Linked DNA regions of Homo sapiens: regions 2, 3, 4, 5, 6 and 7 are each linked to region 1. The links come from fine-mapping of genetic effects on gene expression. A gene starts in region 1. Each other region holds a variant in brackets. All regions are shown on one strand. Distances are from middle to middle.

What was found. PIP is the estimated chance that this variant, and not a neighbour inherited with it, causes the effect. A credible set is the group of variants that fine-mapping cannot tell apart.
Region 2: its variant is the best candidate, but not a certain one, in a credible set for the expression of RASA3 in monocytes (Quach 2016, PIP 0.57).
Region 3: its variant is the best candidate, but not a certain one, in a credible set for the expression of RASA3 in subcutaneous fat (TwinsUK, PIP 0.88).
Region 4: its variant is the best candidate, but not a certain one, in a credible set for the expression of RASA3 in T cells (TOPMed, PIP 0.76).
Region 5: its variant is the best candidate, but not a certain one, in a credible set for the expression of RASA3 in blood mononuclear cells (TOPMed, PIP 0.67).
Region 6: its variant is the best candidate, but not a certain one, in a credible set for the expression of RASA3 in subcutaneous fat (TwinsUK, PIP 0.88).
Region 7: its variant is the best candidate, but not a certain one, in a credible set for the expression of RASA3 in T cells (TOPMed, PIP 0.85).

What each region holds. Positions count from the first base shown.
Region 1 is chr13:114,130,422-114,134,421 of GRCh38, forward strand. RASA3 (RAS p21 protein activator 3) reads right to left here and starts at 2,202. Exons shown (of 24, transcript NM_007368.4): 1 at 2,014-2,202. The coding sequence starts at 2,068. LOC107987192 (a long non-coding RNA gene) reads right to left here and starts at 582. Exons shown (of 2, transcript XR_001750050.2): 1 at 1-582. RefSeq lists enhancers at 1-39, 78-337, 628-1,127, 1,298-1,925 and silencers at 1,718-2,377, 2,408-2,507.
Region 2 is chr13:114,099,328-114,103,327 of GRCh38, forward strand. The region is part of intron 1 of RASA3 (RAS p21 protein activator 3); the gene reads right to left. Among named protein-coding and RNA genes, the nearest start is that of RASA3-IT1, 8.5 kb to the right of the region's middle. The variant A/G (reference allele first, on the strand shown) is at 1,966.
Region 3 is chr13:114,011,614-114,015,613 of GRCh38, forward strand. It overlaps RASA3 (RAS p21 protein activator 3), which reads right to left. Exons shown (of 24, transcript NM_007368.4): 14 at 3,596-3,719; 15 at 1,529-1,635. Among named protein-coding and RNA genes, the nearest start is that of C13orf46, 40 kb to the left of the region's middle. The variant C/CTCTA (reference allele first, on the strand shown) is at 2,409.
Region 4 is chr13:113,939,756-113,943,755 of GRCh38, forward strand. It overlaps a transcript of C13orf46 not described here. Among named protein-coding and RNA genes, the nearest start is that of SWINGN, 13 kb to the left of the region's middle. The variant C/T (reference allele first, on the strand shown) is at 2,416.
Region 5 is chr13:114,220,827-114,224,826 of GRCh38, forward strand. It overlaps CFAP97D2 (CFAP97 domain containing 2), which reads left to right. Exons shown (of 4, transcript NM_001395229.1): 4 at 1,675-2,259. The coding sequence ends at 1,681. Among named protein-coding and RNA genes, the nearest start is that of CDC16, 12 kb to the right of the region's middle. The variant G/A (reference allele first, on the strand shown) is at 1,776.
Region 6 is chr13:114,056,707-114,060,706 of GRCh38, forward strand. The region is part of intron 2 of RASA3 (RAS p21 protein activator 3); the gene reads right to left. Among named protein-coding and RNA genes, the nearest start is that of RASA3-IT1, 51 kb to the right of the region's middle. The variant T/C (reference allele first, on the strand shown) is at 2,030.
Region 7 is chr13:114,172,034-114,176,033 of GRCh38, forward strand. No RefSeq gene overlaps it. Among named protein-coding and RNA genes, the nearest start is that of CFAP97D2, 5.2 kb to the right of the region's middle. The variant A/G (reference allele first, on the strand shown) is at 1,888.

The DNA of each region.
Region 1 (4,000 bases):
AGCCTCAGCTGAGCCAGGGTTTCACTGGCTTGTTTAAAGTGGAGCACAGAGCCTGACCAAGTTGTGGCATCTCCAAACCTCCTTCTCTCCGAGGGATCCTCCAGGGTGCCTGACCCCCACGCCTGTCGGAAGTGGGGCCGAGTGCCCGCAGGCCGGTGAAGCTGCCTTCTGGGAGACTCAGGGTCTGAGTATCTGGTCTGAGACTCTGGTCTTCCCTCGCCCTCCTGTTCTACTTCCCATGCCTTCTGTAAAGTCCTGCCGTGGCCTGAAGTGTAGCCCTTCCTGGAGTACACAGCGAGCATGCTGTGCCGGCTGTGGGCCCCCCACCCCCGAGCCGCAAAGCCCCAGGCCGCCTCTGCCTGCTGCCTGGAGACCTGGCACTGCCCCACAGGGGCACCCACCTCCAGCCCTCCTGCCCCCGTGACTGAGGAAGCCCAGTGCTTCTCACACTCCTCAGACTCGCTGGCTGAGCCAAGCAGCCTTGGCTGAAGGAAAGAGCAGCAAACTGACCCCCACGGGCCGCGACCTTTCCCCACCCAGGCAAGGCGACCTCAGGCACTTCAGGGAGCGCCAGCTCTGGCTTTCTTGTATGAAAGTGACAGCGGATTTAAACCACATTAACAAAAGAAATCCCTCCTCTCTGGACTACTCAAAGCGGAAGTGCTGCCACATCCTAGCTGCAGCGCTTCTGGGCCAAATATCAAGACAGTGTCTCAGCGATGATCCGCAAACCAAAATAAAGCCGACAGGAAACAGCCCGCTGGTTTAGGGGAGCTGGAATGCCTCCGGCAGCATCAAATGTCATCAACAACTGACACTCAGCCCGTTCCCGGAGGCCTCTTCACACGGGAAGAGGCCGGCTGCGAAGTGCGGCTCAGTGGGGGAGAAGGACCGTGGGGACCGCGACACTGCAGGCCCTGGAAGCCTCTCCAGCCTGAACCGCGCTGTGGTCCAGCACACTCATGGCATGAATATGGAACAGTCACTCCAGGAAACGGTCTTGCTCTGGGGGAGGGGGAGGACTTCCACATCACTCTCCCAAGATAAAACAACCAGGGAAAAGCAGATCCCTCCAGATAAACCAGAAGTCCAGACACAGCCTCCTCTCCGGAAACGCCTCCGGGAGCCCACTTCAGAAGCTGCTGAAGCCCAGAGAAAAACCGCAGCCTCGCAGGCCCTGGTCGCCACCAGCTCGCCCGCCACTTCTCAGTGGAAAGGGACGTGGTGCCGATGGGTCCGGGGTCTCCCCGCCCCGCGGGAGCCCTCAGCCAGAACGCCCCACCAGCACACACGCACACATGCACACACACAAACGCGCGCACACACACGCGCCCACACACAAATACACACGCGCGCACACATGCATCCACACACAAATACGCACCCACACATGCACCCACAAACGCACGCGCACACACACCGCCCACACATGGACACACAAACACAAGCACACACAAACACGCGCGCACGCAGGCACAGACGCGCGCGCACAGCAGCAGCAGCGCGCCGGGGCCTCACGCCCCTGGGGAGAAGCGTGAAGGAGCCTCCACATTCCCCGGAAAGGAAGTTTCTGGGCGCAGCGGAGAAAGGGAGATGCCGAGACCCCGACGTCAGTGGATTTGACACCTGAAGTGCAGGCGCCCAGACAGCCTCAGGCGCGCGCACTCCTGCAAACACGCGGGGCACACGCTCGGGCGCACACGCGGACAGACGTCCCTCGGCGCAGGGACCCCACCTCCTCCGCCGCTACCAGGGACCGGGGCCGCTCCGGGCGCAGAGGAGGCGCAGGGAGCCGCGTTACCCCGGAGCCGACTCGACCCAGCCCGAGGCCCGGGGAGGCGGGGAGGTGGGGAGGGGCCGCGGAGCCGGACCAGCCGTTCTCCGGGGAGCGCGCCGCGCCTGGAGGGCGTCTCCGCCGGGGTCCCCAGCAAGGATCTGCGGAGGGGAGGCGGGCGCGGGAGAGGACAGGGTCGGGCCGGGGGGTCGGACGCGTGGCTGCCGGCGGACACTCACCGATCTTGATCTTCACGCTCTGGAAGACCCGGAGCCCCTCGTCCTCCACCGCCATGCTGCGCGTCCGCGCCCGCCGAGCCTCGCCCCAAGCGCGCGCCGAGCCCGGGCAGCTCAGGCCGAGCAGGAGGAGCGGCGGCGCCGGAGCCCCGAGCGCGGCCGAGGGTCCGCCCGCCTGCAAGACCGCCAGTTGGCCGAGGGCGAGGGCGGGGACCGGGAGGCTCCGCCCGCGGCCCGGCCCCTGCTCCCAACTGGCCCGGGCCCTGCAGGGGCGGGGTTGGCAGGGACGGCGCTGGCGGGTGGCGGAGACCCGGGGGGCGCAGGGATCGGCTTCCCCCGAGGCCTCGGCCCCCGCCCCCGCCCCGCGGATTGGCCGCTGAGCGGAAGGGACCCCAGCGGGCTGCCTGGCGGAAGAGACGAAGGAAGGTCGCCGGCGCGGCCCGGGCCCGCTGAGCGAGGCTGAGCGATTGACTCGCGGACGAACTTTGCCAAGAGAAGTTCACGTACAACGATCTGGCAGGGGAGGAATCCCGCGCCCAGCCCCAGCTCCTGAGATGCGATCCGAAGGCACCTGCTGCAGACGCACGAGGGGGGCGGGGACACATACACGCACACACAGCCCCCCACCCCAGACCTCCGGCATGGGCAGGTCCCCCCCCCAAGTCCCCCTGCAGACCCCAGCATGGGCAGGTCTCCCCCCCCCCAGTCCCCCTGCAGACCCCGGCATGGGCAGGTCTCCCCCCCCCAGTCCCCCTGCAGACCCCGGCATGGGCAGGTCTCCCCCCCCAGTCCCCCTGCAGACCCCGGCATGGGCAGGTCCCCCCCAGTCCCCCTGCAGACCCCGGCATGGGCAGGTCCCCCCCCAGTCCCCCTGCAGACCCCGGCACGGGCAGGTCCCCCCCCAGTCCCCCTGCAGACCCCGGCACCGGCAGGTCTCCCCCACCCAGTCCCCCTGCAGACCCCAGCATGAGCAGGTCCCCCCCCAGTCCCCCTGCAGACCCCAGCATGAGCAGGTCCCCCCCCCAAGTCCCCCTGCAGACCCCAGCATGGGCAGGTCCCCCCCCAGTCCCCTGCAGACCCCGGCATGGGCAGGTCCCCCCCCAGTCCCCCTGCAGACCCCGGCATGGGCAGGTCCCCCCCCCAAGTCCCCCTGCAGACCCCGGCATGGGCAGGTCCCCCCCCAGTTCCCCTGCAGACCCCGGCATGGGCAGGTCCCCCCCCAGTCCCCCTGCAGACCCCGGCATGAGCAGGTCCCCCCCCAGTCCCCCTGCAGACCCCGGCATGAGCAGGTCCCCCCCCCAAGTCCCCCTGCAGACCCCGGCATGGGCAGGTCCCCCCCCAAGTCCCCTTGCAGACCCCAGCATGGGCAGGTCCCCCCCCAAGTCCCCCTGCAGACCCCGGCATGGGCAGGTCCCCCCCCAGTCCCCCTGCAGACCCCAGCATGGGCAGGTACCACCCTTACCTCCCTTTCTTCTGTCTCGAGGTCTCCTCCTCCCTGACCTCCTCTCTGAGGAGTATGTTTGTGTGTGTGTATGAACTGTAGGTGTGTATATGAACTGAGACTACACTCCCTCCTCTATGTTGCAAAACTTCATTGCACCCAGTGCCACACACACACCCTACACATATATACACACATACATATACCACACATACACTACATATACATATACATACACATAGACACCACACACAGACACCACACACATACTACACACGTGTACACACATACATATACACACATATACACACACCCTACATACACACACCACATATACACATGAACACATATGTTCATATACACACAACACAGACAGCACACACATATACTACCCATACACATGCACAGACATACACACTAAACATACATACACACACCTACGTGAACATACACAAACACACACACACTGCATGGAGAGGAACAGGAGCTTCATGAAGATAGAGGCCTATTTTTTTCCACTGCTTACCTTCACTTCCTAAAAAGCAGTTC
Region 2 (4,000 bases), 31 kb before region 1:
ACACGCGGGGCTGCAGCCACTCCCAGGCCTCCATCACACAGGGACGGTACAGAAATAGCGTGTCTTGTGGGTGGGTGCTGGGTCGGGGAGGGAGGGCGACTGCCTCTCCCTTTCCAGGCACATTTGGATTCCCCGGGGTGTCCGGGAATGACTCAGGCCTCTGGTCAGCGCTTCTCAGACCTGTGTTCACACAGCGCGTCTCCCTCCTTTCCCTCCCTGCCTGGGACCTAAGTACGGCTCTGTTTAAAACTGGCCCAAATGCAGGGTCAGCGCCTGAGATGCAGCCCCCACAGCAGCCCCCCCACAGCCCCCCCACAGCCCCCCCAGCCCCCCCACAGCCCCCCACAGCAGCCCCCCCACAGCCCCCACAGCAGCCCCCCCACAGCCCCCACAGCAGCCCCCCCACAGCCCCCCACAGCAGCCCCCCCACAGCCCCCCACAGCAGCCCCCCCACAGCCCCCCACAGCAGCCCCCCCACAGCCCCCCACAGCAGCCCCCCCACAGCCCCCCCACAGCAGCCCCCCCACAGCCCCCCACAGCAGCCCCCCCACAGCCCCCCACAGCAGCCCCCCGTAGCCCCCACCCCACAGCCCCCCCACAGCCCCCCTGCAGCCCCCCACAGCCCCCACATGCTCCACTCGATGCTCACACGCACAGTTTTATCTCCTTAACTCTAATGCTGTTTAAAAACTATTGTCCTAATCAAGCAAGAAAAACTGCAGGTTTGCAAAGCGTCTGCTCTGGAAGAGCGGCAGGCCAGGGTGGAGAGACCACACTGCCACACCTGAACACAGCAAGGCTTTCCAAACTCTGCGCAATAGGAAGACGCCGAATGGTAAATGGAGGAGCTCGCAGGAGACGCAGCTCTGACTCTGCCCCGCCCCGGCCCGCGGTGCTGAGGGCGCGCCGATGTGGATGCCTCTGTGCCAGCACCAGCGGCTGCCCCTCGGCCCCGACCCTCCCCACTGCGTCCTGGGGCACCCTCAGAGCTTCGGCCATGGGGTGCACAGCACCCTCCAAGCATTCTGAAAGGAGATTTTAGACTCTTGTGCGCAACACCCAGGAGCCGCCCGCCTGCAAAGCACTTGGTCAGCGTGGCCTGGAAAGGGGAGGAAGGTCCTGGAGGCAGGGCTCTGTCAGGCGGAGGACGTGATGCTCAGAGCAGCCAGGGACCCCCGTCTGGGCCCAGTCCCCCTGCGCTGCGCCCCACGGCTGGCTGGAAGTTTGTTCTGGAAACCACCTCCAAGACAAGTGCAGCAGCCGGCCCTAGCAGTTGGGAAGAAGGCGGCTGACGTGGCTTCCATGGAAAATGCCAGAAAGCACATCCCACACCAGGACACCTGGGCAAACAGCCTCAACTCGGAAAATCCCAGGCTGGTTCGGTCTCTCTGCTGCCCGGACCTGTTTAAATGTCCAGCCGTTTGGGAACTGTGTACCCTTCGAGAAACACTCCAAGGCCCCAGGGACACCGGAAGCCGTGGAGCCCGGGCCCCATGCGTCTGTGTTCTCGCCACCTGGAGAGGCTGCTAGTGACTGACAGGTGGACTGCGGGGCCTCAACTGCTACTGAGAATGCCACACAATTTTAAAAACTCAGAAATTGCTTATTTTTAGAATTTTCCATTTAACATTTTTGGACCACGGCTGACCACATGTGACTGAAACCGCAGGTGAGGGGGTGAGCGTCAGCCTGTGTCAGGCTGGACACACCTGGGGGCCTGAGGAGCAGCCGGGGGTGTAGGGACAGGGGCTCCCCACACCCACATGGATGGCCTGTGCAGTCACCAGCAAGGCGGGTTCTGCAGGCCTGTGTCCCGGCCAACGGCAGCCACCAAACCTCTCTGCACTTCTGTTACAGACAAGTCAGAGAGGCCCAGAAAAAGGGACCAAAATTGAAGAACCAGGGAATTTCAGAGGGAAGGGAAGGGAAAATCCAACTGGCAAGCAGACCCCTGGGCCATGTGCT[A/G]GGAAGGGGTTCTGCCCAGCGAGGTCTACCCCCAACCAGGACGGGTAGGCAGTGGCCCCAGCACCCCCTGCACCCCCACGGCCCACCAGGGGACTGCACCTCTACAGGAAGGACAGAGGCAGGAGGAACCCCTCAGGGCTGGAGAGTTGCCAGCCACTGCCCGTGCTGGGCCCCGCCCTGAGACAGTGTCTAAGCACCACCCCATGGACAATCCGAACCTGGAGGGGCCTGATCCCGGCCCTGACCCATGCCAGGGGCCCCAGCCGGCACTGCACGCCGGAGATCCGGGCTTTCCTTGGCAAACACGCTTGGCTGTCCTCGTTTCCAAGTCAGCCCTGTTGGTAAAACAGTGAAGCCAGCAGTGAAATACACGAAACCCGAACAGCCCCGGAGTTGGAACTGGAAGCTTCCAGGGAAGACGGCAGTGTCTAAGTGTCTCCCTTAACTGCTGTGGCTGCACCCGGGGTCCTGGGGGTGAGAGGCTTGTGGGCCCTGAAGTCACCTGCTGGATTCCAAAGTGGGCCATGCCAATGCCGTCTGGAAAACATACGGAAAATGTCATTCCCAGGAAATGTGGCACATCATTCACCCTGGACCACGGCACAAGGAAATCAACTCACCCTGGACCATGGCATAAAGACAGACGGGGCCCTCTCATCAGAAAGTGGGGAGCGGGGGTCTCAGTTTCCAAGGACCCCACAAGCGACGTCTACAGGGTGAAAGACCCCGTGCCCAGCACCGAAGGACCTGCCCGACACACAGTCCCCAGCCTTGAGCGGAGACCCCCAGACTGCATACAACTGTGCAAATGCACTTGACCTCCCTTTGGTTGTGAGTCACAGGACTGTCTTAAAAAGAGTGTCTTCTTCCAGTGCCAGAAAACAGAGAGACGGGGGCTGTGAAGCACAGGATCCACAGCGGGCGGGTGGTAGGCGGGCAGCAGGTGGGCGGTAGGCGGGCAGTGGGCAGGCAGCGGGCTGAGAAGCAGAGCAGAGCCCCAGCCAGGAGCCCAGAGGGCGGCAGAGCAGCGGGCACCGAACCAGACTGTCGGACCTGTGCTGGGGGAGAGCGAGAGTGAAGGAGGAAGAGAGACGGAGACAGAGAGACGGTGAGAGGGAGAGGGACAGAGAGGGAGTGAGAGCGCTTCCCACAAGAAGAACCAAGCTCAGGTCCCACCCTCCCCCAGAGCCTGGTGCAGCTGCGTGGGACGGGCAGGAGGTGCGAGGGGCCCTGTCTCTGACGTTTTGTGCCAGCACTGCCCTCTACACACAAACTCTCAGGAACCATCACGACCCCATTTTGCAGGAGAAGATGCTGAGGCCCAGGGCGGTGAGCAGGCCACATGGCCGGTGGCAGGGGCAGAAGTGGGACTGCAGCCCACCAGGTGGTGTCACAGCCAAGGCTGCGGCGTCACTGCCTGTCCTGCCTCACCTACCCCCAGGGCGACGCTCCCGACTAAACCACCTCTGTCCTATGGTCTCCGGGGCTTCCTGACCCCTGGGGAGGGCGGCAAAGCCTGTGGAGGCTGGAGTCCTGTGGGCTGGGGACGACGGGAAGACCAAGTCGTCTGTATAATCGCCGTGGGCGCAGCCGGCAGTGCCACCCACCCACCCACAAGGCAACACGGGGCCTGAGTCCAGCCCCAGGCAGGTGGGCTCCCAGAGTTGGGGTCCCTGAACCAAACCACCCCTGCTGCTCGCTCACCCCTAAGAGTGAGGCTGCGATGCTGTCAGCCAAGGACACTCACGTGGGCAGCTCCGGTGCAGCCGGCCCCAGGGGGAGAAATGCAGCTGTGGCTGTCGTGGAGGTGGCTGTGGCCAATGGCCGTGACTGTTGCTGTGTCTGGCAGAGAAGCCAGGTGCACTGGCTCTGTGCTTCAAGGAGACCTAGAGGGTCTCCCCCAAGTCCACCGGAAATGTGTGCACATTCGCCCTACCCCACTGTGTACCTGGCCCAAGTCGGGAGAGATGCCCAAGAGACCACAGCCAGCCTCAGCACAGTGAAGGCTGCCCTGGCCCTTCGGGGTGTCTGGGAA
Region 3 (4,000 bases), 120 kb before region 1:
TTGAAGGTTCAACTCAGAAGTGCTGGGGGCCGGGCTTGGTGGCTCACGCCTGTAATCCCAGCACTTCGGGAGGCCGAGGCAGGTAGATCACTTGAGGTCAGGAGTTCGAGACCAGCCTGGCCAACATGGTAAAACCCCATCTCTAATAAAAATACAAAATTAGCTGGGCGTGGTGGCGCACGTCTGTAATCCAAGCTACTAGGGAGGCTGACGCACGAGAATTGCTTGAACCCAGGAGGCAGAGGTTGCAGTGAGCTGAGATGGTACCACTGCACGCCAGCCTGGTGACAGAGCAAGACTCTGTCTCAAAAAAAAAGAAGTGCTGGGGAATGGGCAATCCCTCACGTCCTCTCGCCCTGGCCATCTCCTTCCAGCTCTGCCACCCGCACGTGCAACACGGTCACCCCAGATCCCTGTACCCTGAGAGCTGCGGCCCCAGCAACCACATTGGGGCCTGGAGAAAATCAGTGCTAAATAGGAATCTGTTGACTCAATACACGGATGATACGCCGATCATCAATACTCCATATGTGATGGGCAGGGGAGGAGAGCAGGGCGGTGACCAGCAGCTAAAACCCTGGACAAACCGTCCACTGCTTTTGTGACACTGTCTCGACTCCCCCAGAACGTACACAGCTTAAATAGGTCGGTGAACCACCTGCAACGAGGACGTTCCAGGACCCAGCGCATCCACCAGCACTCCCCACGCACCGTCCACACACTCCACACACACTCCACACGCACTCCCCATTCCACACACCTTCCACACTCCCCGTGCACCGTCCACACACTCCACACACACTCCCCATTCCACACGTCTTCCACACTCCCCACTCCCCATGCACCGTCCACACACACTCCCCATTCCAAACGCACTCCCCACTCACTCATTACACACACTCCCCACGCATTCCACACACACTCCTCATTCCATGCACACTCCCCATGCATTCCACACACACTCCCCATTCCACACACACTCCTCATTCCACGCACACTCCCCACTCACTCCTCATTCCACACACACTCCCCATTCCACACGCCTTCCACACTCCCCACACACTGTCCACGCACTCCACACACTCCTCATTCCACACACACTCCCCATTCCACACACACTCCCCACTCACTCATTCCACACACACTCCCCATTCCACATGCCTTCCACACTCCCCACGCAGTCCACGCACTCCACACACTCCTCATTCCACAAACACTCCCCATTCCACACACACTCCCCACTCACTCCTCATTCCACACACACTCCCCATTCCACATGCCTTCCACACTCCCCACGCAGTCCACGCACTCCACACACTCCTCATTCCACAAACACTCCCCATTCCACACACACTCCCCACTCACTCCTCATTCCACACACACTCCCCACTCACTCCTGATTCCTCACACACTCCCCACGCATTCCACACTCCACACGGTCGGCCCCCTACAGCCACGCAGATGCCCCAACCCAGGCCGGCGTCGCAGGACAGCTCAGAAAGCCTCGGTCCCTCAGCCGGTCACTCACCGTGTGGTGCGGCGTGAGCTGGAAGAGGTTGGGGGAGAGAATGGCGGGCGCAAAGAACCTCAGGAAGATGAAGCTGCTCACTGCAGTGTACCTGACGTCCGGGTCATCTGCGGGAGAGAGAAGCAGGGTGACCGTTTTCCTCGGGCACAATGGCCTCGTGGGGACACCATGCCCCGGCCCCCTGAGGGTCCGCAGGGAAGTCCAGCCACAGTCCTGGCTCTATCTCCACCTGTGTCTGTCTCTCTCCCTCTCTCTGTTTCCCTCTCTCCCTCTCTCTGTTTCCCTCTCTCTCTCCATCTCTCTGTCTCTCCCCCTTTGTCTCTCTCCCTGTCTCTCTCCGTATCTCTGTCTCTCTCTCTCTCCCTCTATTTGTCTCTCTCTCATCTCTCTGTCTCTCTCCCTCTCTTTGTCCCTCTGTCTCTCTCCCTATCTCTGTCTCTCTCTCTCTCTCTCCGTCTCTGGCTCTCTCCCCCCCTCCATCTGTCTCTCTCTCTCTCCATCTCTTTGTCTCTCTCCCTCTTTGTCCCTCTCCCTGTCTCTCTCCCTATCTCTGTCTCTCTCTCTCTCTCCCCCTCTCTCTCTCCGTCCGTCTGTCTCTGGCTCTCTCTCTCTCTCTCCATCTCTCTGTCTCTCTCCCTCTCTGTCTCTCTCCCTAACTCCATCTCTCTCTCCCCGTCTCTTTCTCTCCGTCTGTCTCTCTCTCCATCTCTCTGTCTCTCTCCCTGTCTCTCTCCCTATCTCTGTCTCTCTCTTTTTCTCTCTTTCTCTGTCTCTCTCTCTCCGTCTCTCTCTCCCTGTCTCTATCTCTCTGTCTCTCTCTCTCTCTCTCCGTCTCGATCTCTCTCTCCATCTCTCTCCGTCTGTCTCTGTCTCTCTCCAT[C/CTCTA]TCTCTCTCTCCGTCTCTATCTCTCTCTCCGTCTGTCTCTGCCTCTCTCTCCGTCTGTCTCTGCCTCTCTCTCCGTCTCTCCCTGTCTCTCTCTCTCTCTCCTTGTCTCTCTCTGTCTCTCTCCTTCTGTCTCTGCCTCTCTCTCCATCTCTCCCTGTTTCTCTCCATCTCTCATCACCACCACACAGCGCAGCCCCTTTGGTGTCTCATTCCACAGTGGTCTGTGCTCATCTGGGTGAGAGGATGTGTTTTATCTCTTCACTTCCACCTTGTTCAAAGTGGGTCTGGGGCTGGGATGTGCTTGGGAACTGCCTCCCCCAGAACCCTGGGCCCCTCGGCCGGCGCTGTCTGACTGTCTGATGTCCTGAGAATCAGGGGTGGGGACAGCGTTTGTCTCCTGGGGACACAGAAGCGTGGACGGCTCTGCAGGACCATGGCCACCCCGGGGTGTCTGCAGCTGTCCCGAGGCCACAGGACACGCAAGGAAGAGAGGAGCCGGCAGCAAGGCCCTCGCTGAGCCTCTCAGCGCCCCATACATAGCCTGAGTCCTGGCGGGGTCTTGAGTATCGCAGGTGATGGGTGGGTGCAGGCACCCAGCTCCTCCCTGAGGGTCGGCAAGGTTGAGAAGTGGGGTTTGGGTGCTGGATGCCCAGGTCCCTAGGGGATCTCCGGCTTGGGGGTTTGAAGAAAGGGCAGCTCCCCCAGGGGTCCTGTCTCTTCGAAGACACGGGCAGGCAGAGCCCCCAACACCACTCTGGGCCCTGCCAGGGTCGGCCACAAAAAGAAACCACTGGGAAAACCCAGGGGTCCACATCAGGAAAATTCACATTCCACCCCGACAAAGCCTGGCCACCCTTCCCGGCCCCCCCAGAGACCACTGTGGTCGTGAACTCCAGGGCTGGGCCCCTCTAGAGACCACTGCGGTGGTGATCTCCAGGGCTGGGGTCCCCTGGAGACTACTGTGGAGGTGAACTCCAGGGCTGGGGTCCCCCAGAGACCACTGCGGTTGTGAACTAGGGAACACTGGCCCGGGCACAAACCCCGGAAAAATCCAGCATCGGAACTGGGGTTCACGACCCCGCAGTTCTAGTCTAGCCAGGGCTGCGGGGGGTTCTGCCTGGGTGGGAGTCACCCTGCACAGCGCTATGGCAGTTTCTCAGCAACATGAGGGTGTTCAGGGCACTCACCCTGGAAGCGCTTGGCCGCCGCCTCCCGGAGGGAGAAGAAGATGTCACACATGACGGTCGGGCAGCTCACCCCAGACTCAGTGATGGCGTGGAAGACGCGGTCCACATACTGCCGTAGGTTCTCCTGCAACGGGACACGGCACTGGGACCCACTCCCGAGGCTGCCCACAGGTGCGTGTAGCACCAGGGCACGCCCAGGGAGGGGCGCGTGGGGAGGGGCTGAGGGCGGGCGCAGGGCAGCTGCGGCAGTGAGACACGTGTGAACAGCCACTCCCTGGAAATCTGTGCTGGGAGCTGTGGCAATTCACGCGTGAAAATCACTACACAGGCACCACGTCGGCTCCCCGGCTCGGCCCCGACCTCGTTTACTGAGTGGGGAATGGACGTTCACTAGAATGTGCCTGC
Region 4 (4,000 bases), 190 kb before region 1:
CCAGGGCACTGACCTCTCTGGGCCCAGCGCCATCTCATGCTCACAGGTCTGATGACAATACTTCTCAGGAGGTGCTGGGAAGGCCAAAGGGATCATCCCATGTGCTTCTAAGTCAAACACGATTCAGCGTGAAAAACACTGGCCTGGGTCATCAAGAAACCGGGTGCCAGGCAGGATGAAAGGAAGTGCCGCTGGCCTCATCTGAGCCAGAGCCTCCTGTCTGTCATGTGTGTGGGCTCTGACGCAGGGGGACCAGGATGCCCGGGTGGCAGCCGTGATCAGGGGAGGCATTCGGGCCACCTCAGAGGCCCCAAGAGGCTACCTGCCTGCCTGGCCCTGCCCATGCGGCCAAAGTCCACCCCAGGGGCGGGGGCTGCGCCTCGGCCTCAGATGCACCGTCAGCCGCATTTGGCTCCTCTTACTACTGAAGAGGGGAAGGAAGAGTGTGCAGCAGGGGCCTGGGCCGTTTCCCCGGAAGCGAAGAGCAGGAGGCCAGAGCCAGGTGGGCTCCCCTAGACCCTGCGGTGCTGCCGCCAAGCCCCCCACCCCCAGATGAGCCAGCCTGCAGCACACACTGGCGGGGTGGATGCCAGCCGAGTATTCCCAGGGGAAGCACTTTCCCTGTGCCACCCAGACAGAAGACGCAGGTGCTGGTTTCCTATGGGGCTCTGCGTGAGGATGGGCGTCTGGGACCCTGGTCTCCTCTAGGACTCCATGTGTGAGGCTGGGCATTCGAGACCCTGGTCTCTGGGACTCCATGTGTGAGGCTGAGCGTTCGAGACCCTGGTCTCTGGGACTCCATGTGTGAGGCTGAGCGTTCGAGACCCTGGTCTCTGGGACTCCATGTGTGAGGCTGAGCGTTCGAGATCCTGGTCTCCTCTGGGACTCCGTGTGTGAGGCTGAGCGTTCGAGACCCTGGTCTCTGGGACTCCATGTGTGAGGCTGAGCGTTCGAGATCCTGGTCTCCTCTGGGACTCCGTGTGTGAGGCTGAGCGTTCGAGACCCTGGTCTCTGGGACTCCATGTGTGAGGCTGAGCGTTCGAGACCCTGGTCTCTGGGACTCCATGTGTGAGGCTGAGCGTTCGAGATCCTGGTCTCCTCTGGGACTCCGTGTGTGAGGCTGAGCGTTCGAGACCCTGGTCTCTGGGACTCCATGTGTGAGGCTGAGCGTTCGAGACCCTGGTCTCTGGGACTCCATGTGTGAGGCTGAGCGTTCGAGATCCTGGTCTCCTCTGGGACTCCGTGTGTGAGGCTGAGCGTTCGAGACCCTGGTCTCTGGGACTCCATGTGTGAGGCTGAGCGTTCGAGACCCTGGTCTCTGGGACTCCATGTGTGAGGCTGAGCGTTCGAGATCCTGGTCTCCTCTGGGACTCCGTGTGTGAGGCTGAGCGTTCGAGACCCTGGTCTCTGGGACTCCATGTGTGAGGCTGAGCGTTCGAGATCCTGGTCTCCTCTGGGACTCCGTGTGTGAGGCTGAGCGTTCGAGACCCTGGTCTCTGGGACTCCATGTGTGAGGCTGAGCGTTCGAGACCCTGGTCTCTGGGACTCCATGTGTGAGGCTGAGCGTTCGAGATCCTGGTCTCCTCTGGGACTCCGTGTGTGAGGCTGAGCGTTCGAGACCCTGGTCTCTGGGACTCCATGTGTGAGGCTGAGCGTTCGAGACCCTGGTCTCTGGGACTCCATGTGTGAGGCTGAGCGTTCGAGATCCTGGTCTCTGGGACTCCATGTGTGAGGCTGAGCGTTCGAGACCCTGATCTCCTCTGGGACTCCATGTGTGAGGCTGGGCATTCGATACCCTGGTCTCTGGGACTCTGTGTGTGAGGCTGGGCGTCTGAGACCCAGGAACGTGCTGGAAACAGGAGCTGTTGACATCGTTTCCCAGGCTGGGCTGCTGCTGTTTCTCTGCCTGTCAGATGGAGACACAGTTCCAGCCTCGCAGGTGGCCTTCAGCACAGCACGCCAGGCACCCTGGGTGCTGCCCCCACTCTCCCCACCCAGAAGGCAGCTGCGCAGGGTCCCTGGCCTGGAGGACCTGCCTGGACCTGCCCAGCGCCCTGGACGAGGTCTGCCCTAGGCCTCCGCATGTCACCTGTCCTCTGAGCAGTTCCTGCCACTGCTTTACTCTCACCGCCTTCCTCTCCCCTTAGCACTTTACCTCCAAATGGGCTGTCCTTGCCGGCGGCTGACTCATTGCTCCTCCAGAGCAGGGAAGTTTGCAATGAGCTGAAGTCCTGTGGAGCCCAGAGCCGGAGGCTCACCCCCAGATTTAATTAATTAAAAAGTAAGAGCTTGTGAAGGTCACAGGGGCCAACATGAAGAGCTGCCAAAGGCCGATCATGGTGGCATGAGCAACAAAACGCACAGAGGCCGTGCTGATTGCAAACCACAGAATCCACTACTGTGGTCACTGACCTA[C/T]ACTTTTCACAAACCACAGAATACAATAGACGCATATGAGTTCTGCTGCTGTCGCCACTGGCCGGGTCAACACGCAGCCCGGGAGGAGGGACCCACTGCTCTTCCCTGCAGGAGAACCTCGATGGATAAATGCCTGAGGAAATGGGGAAACAGAAAATCACCACGAGTCAAAGTCCACGGAACTGATTGCTGCTGACAAGACCCCCATGGATGCCAAAATCAGAGAAGTTCCAGGAGAATCAGGATTTGGTCTCCCAGTGTCTCCAGGACGATTATCCCCTACAGAGGAAGGACGGCGATTTGACCAGGAGACTCGGCAGACACCACCTGGACCTGTAGTTGGACACATCAGCTCAGGAGCCACTGAGAGACAGCCTTACCTCCACAGGATGCTTGCCAAATGGGCTGGACTTCATACAGTCCTGAGAACACGAGACAGCAAAATCCATGCCCAGCCCCCAGGACAAGGATGGCCAGAGCTGACGCGGGCACGGGCAACCAGGGGACTGGGTGTCTGGATGCAGTGAGGGAGGATGAGGGAGACGGCAGGGCGCGGTAGGAACCCCTGGGCCAGCGGGCTCCAGGCAGCGGAGGCGGCCTGTTGGTGATCGGTCAGCCAGTTACTGTGCCCTTTACCTTGAGGATGGGACACAGGTCCTCTGGCGTCTCCTTGGACTCCCTGATGCCTCTGAGAAAGGCACAGCGCCCCAGTGCCCGCCGGAGGTGAGGTGGGAGCCAGGTGGGAGCAGTCAGTGCCCCTCACGAGCACTGCAGATGGCCGGCGGCCATGGCTCTCTAAGGCCCGCTTGGTGGATGCTGAGCCCTGCCCTCAGGGAGCGCTGGCCCCTCGGGTCCCTGGGCCCTGACAGTCCCACTGAGGCTCGGCTCCATTTCTGCAAATGGCTGCCTCCCACAGGAGAGCTCGGGGAGAGCTCCGGGCCGGGGTCAGACAGCAGCGTTGGCTCCTGTCAACAAAGAGTCAAACTCTGTAAAATGTGGGGAGATTCATTCTGAGCCCAAGACAAGTGACCGTGGGCCATGACCCAGCCCTCAGGAGGGCCTGAGGACATGTGTCCAGGGTGGTCAGAGAGTAGCTTGCTTTTATGCATTTTAGGGAGAATGAGACTTCAGGCAATACATTTAAGAAATATGCTGGTTCGGCTCAGAAAGGCAGGGCAATGCAAAGCAGTCAGGGGAGCAGAACTCTCAGGTTATAGGAAGATTTAAAAACTTTCCGGTGGACAATTGGTTACATTTATCTAAAGACCTGGGATCAATAATAGAAAGGAATGCCTGAGTTCAGATCCAGGATCCTGGAAACCCAGGTTCTTATTTGTGGAGGAGGCCTTCAGGTAGCAGCTTCAGAGGGCTGTGAAATGTTTCTCATCAGACTTCAGGTCTGTGTGGACGTTAATGCTGGAAAGGTAGAACGAGGCATGTCTGACCCCCGTTCCCGTCATGGCTGGAAACCACCTCTCGGGTTACATTTTAAGAGGGCTCTGGTGAGGACGAGGTCCACTCAGATGGTTGGGAACCTTAGTGTTTTATTTTTGGCTTACGCTCTGTTGGTGGGTGATGACGAGTG
Region 5 (4,000 bases), 90 kb after region 1:
ACCATCATCTCGGACAAAAGCTCAGCCTCGGGGAGCCCCATTCTCGCTTCTAAAGATGGGACAGGAACCACCTCCTGGACCTCACGTCAGGGTTAAGTGAATAACATTTGCAAAAATGACTGTGAAAGTGACTCACACTTGGCTGGGCATGGTGGCTCATGCCTGTAATCCCAGCACTTCGGGAGGCCGAGACAGGCGGATCACGATTTCAGGAGATCGAGACCATCCTGGCCAACATGGTGAAACCCCGTCTCTACTAAAAATACAAAAATTAGCTGAGTGTAGTGGCGTGCGCCTGTAGTCCCAGCTACTCAGGAGGCTGAGGCAGGAGGATCGCTTGAACCAGGGAGGCGGAGGTTGCAGTGAGCCGACATCGCGCCACTGCACTCCAGCTTAGGCGACAGAGCGAGACTACGTCTCAAAAAAACAAAAAAACAAAAAAAGTGACTCACACTTACTTGGCAAAAGATAAATTTGAGTTTCTTTCCTTTTTCCTCCTGAAGGCCCTTTACCATCCAGCAACAAGCCAACATGGCTCAGTTTACTGATTCCGGGAAAAGTACTTTGCTGCATTTCAGAAAGATGTTTAACAACAAAACTGACAAAAGGTTATCTGATTATTTGAATAGAGATTTCTCCCAACAGGATATACAAATGGCCAATAAGTGCATGAGAAGATGTTCAATGTTATTAGTAAATGCAAATGAAGACCACAGTGAGATGTCACTTGCAGCCACTAACTTGTCTGCAATCAAAAGGTAGATTACAATAAGGATGTGGAGAAACTGGAACCCTCATAGGCTGCTGGTAGGGGTAAACAGTGGTATGTATACATATGTAACAAACCTGCACATTGTGCACATGTACCCTAGAACTTAAAGTGTAATAAAAAAAAAAGGAAATGAAATAAAAGGTACACAAACTTAAAATGAAAAGAAAAAAAAAGAGTGGTGCAGCCACTTTGGAAAACAGTTTGGTAGTTCATCAAAAAGTTAAACAGTTACCAAATCACCCAGCAACTCCACTCCTAGGTCTATATTCGAGAGACTTGAAAACATACATTCATGCAAAAACCCATACACTGATGTTCATAGCAGCACAGTTCACAATGACCAAGAGGTGTAAACAACCCAAATGTCTATCAACTGATGAACAGATAAAACGTGGTATAGCCATAGAATGGAATATTATTCTACCATAAAAAGGAATGATACTAGTTACAGAATGGATAAACCTTAAAGACATTATTATGTTCCGTGAAAAAGCTGGATACTAAATGCCGCATGTTGTCTGATCCCTTTTATATGAAATGTCCAGAATAGGCACATTCAAAGAGACAAAAAGTAATCAGTGGTTGTCGGGGCTGGGGGAAGGGAAATTGGGGAGTGATCCCAAAGGAGTTTGATTTTTGGAGGGGGAGGTGATGAAGATGTTCTGAAATTATATTGTGACAATAGTTGCACAACTCTGAATATACCAAAACACACTAAAATATACACTATAAAGGGGTATAGAATTGTATCTAAATAAAGCTGTTATTTTAAAAATTGTATGTTTAATTCTAAGTAAAGACTTGTCAATGAGTTGAAATATTCCATTTCCCAAGTAAGTTGATAGTTTCTTGTTCTTGCCTAAGAAAGCGTTAGTTTCAAATATGTATTTTAAATCCAGCAGGAAGTGAAACTGGATTAGCAAGCGCACAGCCAAGCCTGGACCCTAAAAGAGAAGTGAGGAAGGGTAAGGATTCAGAACACAAATCCAGAAAGAAGACAAGT[G/A]TGATGAGGGAGTCACAAGGAAGACCCACAAGGCCAGCCATGAGCTCCCCCAGGCTAACACAGCCAGCGGTCTCAGGGCAGTGTGGGGAATCAGCCTTGCCCAGGGCCGGGGCCAGGGCAGCCCCGCTGTCTTCCTCTCTTCACTGTTATCACAGCCGGAGCAGCTGTGAAGTGCCCAGGAGGCAGCTCCTCAAACGGTGTTTCAACAATGTGCCCGAGCAGATGACGCAGCAAAACTATTTTCTGTGCTTCTTGGACTCTGATAACTGGAAACAAACTATGCAGAGTCATGTTAGGAGGTGAGGGTTTGAATTAGATTGTTTTCTCTAGCTATGAAGACTTATTCTGTTACTGTATTTTGAGCTGTGGTGGATTTGTCTATAATTCCTAGGTGGATTTTTAACTTACCTTAAAAGCTCTGTGATTGTTCCTTTAACAAATATCTAAATAAATCAGATTAAAATTTTTGAACGTGATGAAACTACAGCTTGACTCCAGAATACATAACCTAAGATATAAAAAAGACCCAGAGGGCCAGGCACGATGGCTCACGCCTGTAATCCCAGCACTTTGAGGGGCCGAGGTGGGCGGATCACAAGGTGAGGAGTTCGAGACCAGCCTGACCAACATGGTGAAACCCCATCTCTACTAAAAATACAAAGAAGTTAGCCAGGCATGGTGGCGGGCACCTGTAATCCCAGCTACTCAGAAGGCTGAGGCAGGAGAATCGCTTGAACCTGGGAGATGGAGGTTGCAGTGAGCCGAGAACGCGCCACTGCACTCCAACCGGGGCGACAGAGCAAGACTCCATCTCAAAAAAAAAAAAAAAAAGAAAGAAAAAAGAAAAGAAAAGAAAAGAAAAAAGGACCCAGAGAGTCTCGGTTGGAGACATCAAGGGTATGTCTGAGAGCCCTTGGGATCTGCTTAGTTCTCTATCAGCCCCAGGTAAGATCCCGCCTAAGCTGTTCCACAACAATGAACATCAGCCCATGGGCAATGCCTTTTAAAAATGAGTTAAAAGACTCACACACACCTTCATTCATTCAACAGAACTCTGCATATGTAGTCTCAGCCTCATGGAGCTGATAGCTAGCCCCTCAGAAATGTCACGGTCCCTAACTACTCTTTGCTATTTATTTATTTATTATTTTTATTTTATTTATTTATTTTTTGAGATGGATGGGATTACAGGCACATGCACCACCACTCCCAGCTAATTTTTGTATTTTTAGTAGAGACGGGGTTTCACCATGTTGACCAGGCTGGTCTTGAATGCCTGACCTCAGGTGATCTGTCTGCCTTGGCCTCCCAAAGTACTCTTTGCTATTTTTAACCTATATTATAGATTTAAATTTTTGTTTTGTTTTGTTTGAATGAAAATAAGAAGATAATTTCAGGCTGGGCATGGTATCGCACACCTACATTCCCAGCAGTTTGGGAGGCCAAGGTGGGAGGGTCGCATGAGCCCAGGAATTCAAGACCAGCCTGGGCCACATGATGAGACCCCGTCTCTACCAAAAAAAAAAAAAAAAAAAAAAAGAAGCAGCAGCTAATTTCATTCCTTATTTCATTCCTTTATGCACAAGCCCCTTTAAAATACACTTGACATGAATAGCAGAGCTTGCCTCCGGCTCCTCCATGCAGAATTCGGCAATCCCAGGTTCCTCACCGCTCCTCAGGGTGGACCTTCCATTGACAGTGTTTAAAATCACAGACTGTGGGGTCAGACAGGCCTGGATGTGGATTCTGGGTCTCCTGCTGATCCCCCGAGTGGACCTCCCGAAGCCTCTCCTGTGCAGCAGGTGGTGCTGGAGCCTGAGATGCCGGCATCGGGCCGGGAGGAGCTGGGCCTCTGCCCACTGCAGCCATGACCTCTCCAGGCAGCCCCGCCCCCCTGTGTCGTGAAGCGCAACTGGGCACAGGACCTCCATTAACAGTCCACGTCTGTGCTAAACTTGATGGAAAAAATGGCCTCTCCATAGCGATTTGTGTCCTTGGTTTGCAAGCCTCGAATTTGCACCTCCTTTTCGAGGTGGCAGTTTAGGGTTGACTCTGGCAGCATTTTCCGAATGTGCCTGCCTGTGTGTCCCCACCTTGTTCCACCCCACAAGGGTTGTGCTGTAGGAGTCCTGGCCTCTGCCAGCCCTCCCTGATGGGCCCTAATGCAATGAACGTCAAAGGATCTATCACAAAACTAGAAAGGCTGCTGTCTGGTCCTGAGAACA
Region 6 (4,000 bases), 74 kb before region 1:
CCATTCAATAAAAAGAGATAAAAATAGCAGAAAGAGGAAGCTACAAGAAAACATACGAACTCCATAAAATTATCACCACAGACTGGACGTGCCCCTTTCTAAATGTAAAAGCGGTTTATAGCAACACAGCATGGCCCTGCTGCACTACCCCTGGGGAGCAAGACCTCCTCCAGCCTCCACCCAGGAATTTCTCCAGCAATGGCTTTAGAACCTTGCTCCTGAATCGCAGCAGGGGAGGCAGCGCTTTGGGGCCCTCTGTCAGGCTGCCCCCCCTGCTAAGAGGAGCTGTTGTCCTTGGGAACCACGGGTCCCCCCTCCTGAAGAAGGGGAACGTCACACTCACAGTTCCATTTTACACATTTGCAGCTGAGAACCCTGGAGCCAGAACAGGCTCCAGCACAGGCGATGGGTGAGTGTTTTGCATGTCTGATGTCGTTTATTCTAGTGGTTCCAATTGCCTATTTTAATGTTTTTCTTCTTATTTCATATAACTTTTTAAACTTAAAGTAATAAAGTTATTACTAACTTTGTTTCCTGCGGGTCACCTCAAGTCTTTCAGGAAACCAGGCAGGACATCTGCAGGCGGCCGGCCAGCCTTATCAACGGAGCTCTGAGCCACCAACCACTGTGACCAAGCTTCATTCCCACGAGCTGGACGAGCAGAAGGCATTGCAGGGCAGTGGGGTCCGGAGAGGCGGCCGTGCTACAGGCCTTGCACTCATTTTAATGAAGGCTCTGCAGGATTTCAAGGAAAGCTGGAGCCAGTCTCTGTGCCAGAATAGAGGGTTCGTTCAGCTTCTTAGACCGATGATTTATTTAGGGAATAAGAAGGGCGATTCCAGGGACAGTGGAGGCCCCCACAGGAAGGAAACCTCTCCCCACAATGACTGTGCACAGAGCCAGCCTGACACCCAAGGCCACGATGCCATAGCCAGGGAGCCCTGAAGAAACTCCTGGAAGAATGTAAAACCCCCAGCTCAAGGAGGAGAGTGGAGGCGGTTCCCCACCTTCTGGGGGCAGTTAACCTCTGAGAATGAACCCACAGCTAAAACCCATAAAACCTCCGCCAACCACACCCAGACCTGGAAGGGGCACCTCTGGCCAGGGCGCTCAGCACGAGGGGACCCAGAACAATGGCTTCCCTGGGGTGCGGGCTCGGCCTGCAGGATGGAGGCTGGAGAGCTGCCATCCTAGCGCACACTGGGTAGATGCAGGTGTTTCCAATGTGCTGAAGAGGGCAGGGCCTGGCTGAGGCCCTGGGAGGTCGGAGTCCCGGAGGTGGGTGGGGGTGGTGAGTTCCCAGGTCACTTCCCCAGGTGTGCGTTTTCCTCACTGTCCTGTCCTATTCATTCATTTTAGCACGGAGGCCAGAACCAGCCGAGTGAAGCCCCTGCCTGACCACTCAGGGGTGTGAGGACAGGGGCGAGGACCGGGATCATCAGTCAGCTCCTAGAATGGCAGGTTTGTACCTGCAAACGGAGCACCAGAGTGACATCCCCCCAAGACCCCCGAGATGCCATGAGCCCCATGGAGACCACCCACCCGGCAGGGGCCAGCTCCAGGTGCTGCTGCTGCGGCGAGGCCGTCACCACCATCCACGCGTCCAGCAGGAAGAGCGGATTCCTCGGGCGTGAGGCTCACCACTCACGTTGTCTGCACACCTGCCTGACGACCTCTCCCGAACCTGGATTCCCACCACAGAATTCAGCTCCTCGGGTGCTCACCAGCCCGTGACTTGTGGTCACCAGACCGGACGGAAAACACAGAGACCATTTCCTGTTTTGCAGAAAATCCTGTTGGGCCATGCCAGTCCTAGAGCCAAAACACGGTGTCCACTTGAGGGTCCAGACCTGAGGCCACCCTTGCTGGGACAGCATCTCCTTCCCTCTCAGAGCAATGCCACTGATGCCCAGACCAGCAACCATGCCCGTCCTCGCCTGCCCGACAATGCCCTTCCCAGGCCCTGCTCCTCGGAGGACTGGTCATGGGCACCCTGGACTATGCCGACCCGCAGTCCCCAGGGACCAAG[T/C]CCTGCTGCTGTGGACACAGGTGACCCTGCCCCTCGCAGGGGAGCTGCTCTTCTCCTGAGCCCAGGAGTGCTCTGAAACTTATATCCCAATGAGAACCAAAATCAGGAGTAGAAGTGGGAGTTGAAGGCCAGAGCCTTTTTCGAAGAACTTCCCTAAGCTCTTTTAAATACCTGCATCCAGGCCAGATGCAGTGGCTCACGCCTGTAATCCCAGCACTTTGGGAGGCCATGCCAGAAGCGCCACTTGAGCCCAGGAGTTAGAGATCAACCTGGGCAACATAGCAAGACCCCAACTCAACAGAAAATTTAAAAATTAGATGGGTTTGGTGGCGCACGTCTGCAGCGAAGCGGAGGATTGCTTGAGCCCGGGGTTCCAGGCTGCAGTGAGCTGTGATCACAGCACTGCACTCCTGCCTGAGTGACAGGGCGAGATCCTGTCTCAAAAAACCAAACACCTGCATCTCCTGCATCTTCAGAGCACAGTCCCGCCTGGAGGAGCCGCCGTCAGGCCCTCCTGCATCTTCACAGCACAGTCCCCAGGTGCAGCTGCTCCCCCCAACCTAATTCAGGCCCTGGTAAGCTTCACAAGGCCAAGGGGACGTTGGTCTCCACCAGGAAGACTATATGGCACGTCTAAATGTAAGAATCTGTGACAGACGTCGCTGAAGCCAATGCGAGGAGGCGCAGGTACCCAGGAGGCACAGGTACCCAGGAGGCACAGGTGCCCACACGGGCCTTGCCGGGGGAAGCACGACTTTGAAGATGGGGACGTCCACGTTTCAACGCTGCCTTGCCAGAGGCCAGTTCCCTCATCTCTCAGCCTCAGGACACCGCCCTCTCCACAGTGCAGCCTGCGGGCACAGAGGGCGCTCGGCTGGGGAAGGGCAGTGGCTCTGCCCCCAAAGCGGCCTCCCCAGGACACACCACTGCCTGGCTTGGAGGTTTCTTCCTCTGCCCTGCACAGTGAGACAAGCACATGGCAGGGCCTCCCACACACCAGGACCAAACAACGGGGAGCACTTTCGATGTCTTTGGCCCCCGCCAGGCGTGGCTCACTGGACCCAGAAACCACAGCGCTCTCTCTCTCCATGACTGTTTCAGCTGCCCATCCCCGTTCTAGACTGTGGGAATAGCAGCCAATGAAGCAAAGTCCTGGCCCCATGGAGCCAGCCAAAGAGCACACAGAACCACGAATGTCCAACGCGGGCAAGGCTGGCGGGGGCAGCACTGTGGCCTCGCTCGGGGGACAGGGAGGCTTACGGACGAGTGAGCGCTTGAACAGCGCTGTGGACGGTGAGGAGACCCGCAGGAGGACAAGGGAACGCATGAATGAGGCCATGGACGGCGCGGAGAGCGCAGGAGGGGTCTAGGCAGAGGGACACCAGGTGCGAAGGCCTCGAGGCAGCAGGGCTTGTGTGTGGTAAAGACGTAGGAGCAAGGAGAAGGCTGACGTGGCCTGGGCAGGGCACGGCAGGACCGGAGCATGCTGGGAGCCGAGGTCAGAGGTCAGGGTGCAGCCGAGGTCACGTGGTGCAGAGCAGACATTTCACCACAGCAGCTGGGAATATGCAGGCCCGTGCAAGACACTGGATGGACGGATGCACGGATGGGGCAGTGGGCATGCAGGGAGGAATCACCTGTCTCAGGTCAGCAGCCAGGAGCTGCCCAGACCTGGCACAGTGGACCAGGAAGGGAAGGTCACCCAAGCCTCCACAGGTGGGGCTTTCTGCAAGCAAGGTGCAGCGGTCAGCCCGAGAGGCCACGGTGCCGAGCAAATCCTGGTTGTCCTCATGGGGACGACAGGAATTCAGTTCTGGCAGAGCCAAGACTGCCGGGAAGCCAGAGGGGCTCCTGCAGGAGGTGACGGGCCTGCGGGGACGCGAAGGGCCAGGACCGGACACGCCCCGTTCCGCTCTGCTTCCAGTGAGGCGAGAGGCGGGCAGGACGCAGCTGGAGCCGCGCACGCCCGGA
Region 7 (4,000 bases), 42 kb after region 1:
CAGGATTTCTCTGACTCACGAGGCATCCTTAGCATTTTGTCGGCATGCTAGGCTTCTGGGTTCCCTTTCCCCGAGGGCCCCACTGACCCGGCTTGCTGCACCAAAGCCAATGCAGCCAAGCCACAGCACAAAGGAAAATTATCTTTTTCTGCTCTGGCCAGAGCAAAATACATGTGACAAAACATAGATGTTAGCCACTCTGCTTTGCCCCCAATATCAAACTGGCAAGGCTCAAACTTGCCCCCAGATTGGCCCCATCATCTCTAAATCTTTCTAAAAGCTTCTGCATATTAATATGCATCCCTAGATGAGACTAATTTGTGAACCCTCATTTTTAAATGCACTTTTGTGCATTGTTCATTTGGAACATTCCACTGTAAGTTACCTTTAGTAAGATTTTGCCATTTCTTTAAGACTTCATGGCCTCCCAGGCCTAATGTATAAGCCAGAAGGAACTCAGTTTTCTAGAAACTAAGGATCCCATTTTTGATAGCATTAGTATTAAGAGAAATACGTAATGTAGATGACAGGTTGATGGGTGCAGCAAACCACCATGGCATGTGTATACCTATGTAATAAACATGCATGTTCTGCACATGTACCCTACAACTTAAAGTATAATTTTAAAAAAAAAAGGATCCTATTTTTACCTAAAATATTGGCTTTACTCTCAGATTCCCTTGATTAACTTAGCCAATTGATATGGTTTACTGTGTCCCCACCCAAATCTCAACTTGAATTATATCTCCCAGAATTCCCACATGTTGTGGGAGGGACCCATTGGGAGGTAACTGAATCATGGGGGCTGGTCTTTCCCATGCTATTTTCATGATAGTGAATAAGTCTTGCAGGATCTGATGGGCTTATCAGCAATTTCTGATTTTGCTTCCTCCTCATTTTTCTCCTGCTGCTGCCATGTAAGAAGTGCCTTTCACCTCCTGCCATGATTCTGAGGCCTCCCAGCCATGTGGAACTGTAAGTCCAATTAAACCTCTTTTTGTTCCCAGTTTCAGGTATGTCTTTATCAGCAGCATAAAAACAGATTAATACACCAATGATTTTTTTCTACCTAAGCGCACAGGGAAAATGAAACAAAGGGGTGGAACACAAAAATCCCTGTGAATTTCCAAAAGCCAAATTTTATAACCCCTACAATATCAGATCCCACTTCTGACACCATCTATTAAAAGAAAAACTTGAGCCAAATTAAATCTAAAGGAGTTTAATTAAGCAATGAAGGATTCACAAATTGGACAGCCCCCAGAATCACAGCAGATCCGAAAAGACTCTAGCACGGCCATGTAGTGGAAGAATATTTATAGACAAAGAAAGGGAACTGACGTACAGAAATTGGAAGTGAGGTACAGACAGCTGGATTGGTTACAGCTCAGGGTTTGCCTTATTTGAACACAGTTTGGACACTCAGCAGGGTGAGTGGTTGAAGTACAGCTGCTGGAATTGGCCAAGACTCAGCTGTTGTTACAGGCTCAGACTCCTAAATTAGGTTTTCAATCTTGTCTACCTATTAAGTTAGGCTGCAGTTTATCCACAAGGACTCATAAATCTGGAAGTACAGAGTCCTTCTTGGGCCATATTTAGTTGCTTTAACACACCTATAACAAATTAACTTTACCAAGGTGTCTTCCAGTCTCAGCTTCTCACATGCTAGTAAGAGGAAGTTTTTCCAAGGTATCTTCTGGGCTCAGCTCCCCACTTACTGGTAAAAGGAGCAGTTTTGTGCATATCTTGCTGGGTTTGTCTTTCCAGTCATCACAAGAGTGGCTGCACCACACCCCATCACTTTCTGTGTGGAGTGGGCCCAGCTCCAGCTCTGTGCAACAGTAAACCAGTGACACTGGAATTCATGTGTTTATACACTCAGCTTTC[A/G]CATGCTTCTGCATCAATTTTTTAAGACTATTTCCAGAGTGGGATTGAGACCTAAGTGAATCGTCCCAGGAATAGGGTTCTTGAGAAATGATTGCATGAGTAAGGCTGCAGTTAACACCACCATGACTAATTACCAGCAAATTGAACTCCTTCTGTTCTGTGAAAGTTGCTAGTACCAAAATAGGTTCACTCATATCAAACTCTAACAAAATGGGGTGGGGAGGCCATGACGGGGCGCCCTCATACACAAACACCTGGACAAGCCTCATCTCAAGGCACCCCTGCACGGGCCTCAGGTTCGCCCATATTAGGATGCATTGCACGAAAATTCCTCAAGACAGGTCGGTATTACAGGTGAGCGGCCTGCACAAGGAGCTAACGCCAGCTCTGGGACAAGCTCTGCTAACCAGTGATTTTTGTTACAAAGCAGCTTCTGTGGAGTTCTCTCTGTCTTTAAAGATCTCCCCTTTGCCCTGGCCCCTCCAGTGTGCCTGTGATCTATCATAGCATGCAATCCCGTGCTATTCTCACTTAAATTTATTTGTTCTGGAGAGCCTGTTCCTTTGAATTTCCTTTTAGGTGGACAGTTCAAGACCCCTAACACATTAATCCACTTAATCCAAAGAGCTCCTCTTGTATCAGGGAAGGCCACAGGGACATCCCTGTCTTGTTCCTGACCTTGGAATTGCATTGCTTAGTTTCCAAACATGGGATTTCCCAGTTATCTTTTGTTATGAATTCCTGGCTCTCTGCCACTGTGAACATTATCTGTATGATTTCAGCCCTTTGAAACATGTGGACACTTTTTCATGGCCCAGCATACGGTCAAATTTTGCAAATGTTGTAAACATTCTTTCTGTATTGAAAACTTTTATGGTTTCCTGTACTCTGCAGCTATTTCCGATTTTGTCTTTTGTGCCTTGAAGCAGAGTGAGTCTTATCATCTGTGTCTGAGCCATCTGCTCCAAGGTTCCTGTGGTGCTAGTCGTGTCTTCTCTGCAGGATTGATTCACTTTGCAAGATGTTTGGTGCACTGAGACACTGGAAAGTTGGCAGCATCTTGAGATGTCATCAGTCCAGGGCCACGTTAAGATAATTTCGCGACTTGAGGGTTTTTTAGGCACTGTGACATTAAGCTAATTTCACAACTGTGTGAACCTGGGCCGCAGGGCTCTTCCTTGTCTTGTCCCCTGCTCTGCTGTAACCTGGCAGTTGTTGAAGGATGGGTTATTTCTGATCCACGTTTTCCTGAGGGTGAAGACTTCAGCTCCTATGAAGACTGCCCACCTGCCCCATCCCCCACAAAGACCCCACCGCTGGCATCCTGAGTGCCTTCAGGAGAAGCCCTCTGAGTGCTGGCTCGGGGGTCTGACAGATTTTTTTGACCACAGCCTCAAAATTCCTGACTCCTGGGTGGGCTCTTCAGTATATGCAAGATGGCCTCCAGGATTCTGGCTTTGTTCAGTGGAAGGGTCGACTTAAGCAGGTCACGCAGCAGTTCCTGGTGGTGGTGACTCCCAGCTTCTTTAGCTCAGCTCTTGAGTGATTTGCACTACACAGAAGGTACTGGAGACACAGTTACCTTTTCTGGAAATCAATGTTTGCAAGCACATTTGCCCTCCAAAGGTTGAAGGTTGAGTGAATTTGAAGTGGTTGGAGATTTGTTTGTAAACCACTCTTCTGCAGAATGAGAACGAAGTTGCTGCTTGGTTTTGAAGATACGGCCTTTTGTGGGAGGGCAGAACAGAAAAATCAAAGCTTGGATTTAGAGTTAAGGACACAGGAAAAGAATTATGAATATTAAAGACTGAGTTAATATGTGTCATATAGCAAATACTTTACATATTGCATGCAACATAGTAAGCTGTTCTATGTAACGGCCTCCACATTTCAGGATATCACTTGGTGACATTTCAAGGCATTTCTAAGAAACAAAACGTTAAACTTAATATTGGGCCAAAATATTGATTAAGGCAGCAGCTGAACACCCAAATATAATCTGGATAATCAAAGTCAAAAATAGGCGTTGGTATTTACTTTCTGTAGAATATAAGTAGAAACTATATAATACCAAACATCCAAACCTAGCCCAGTATAAAAAATAATTCTCCAC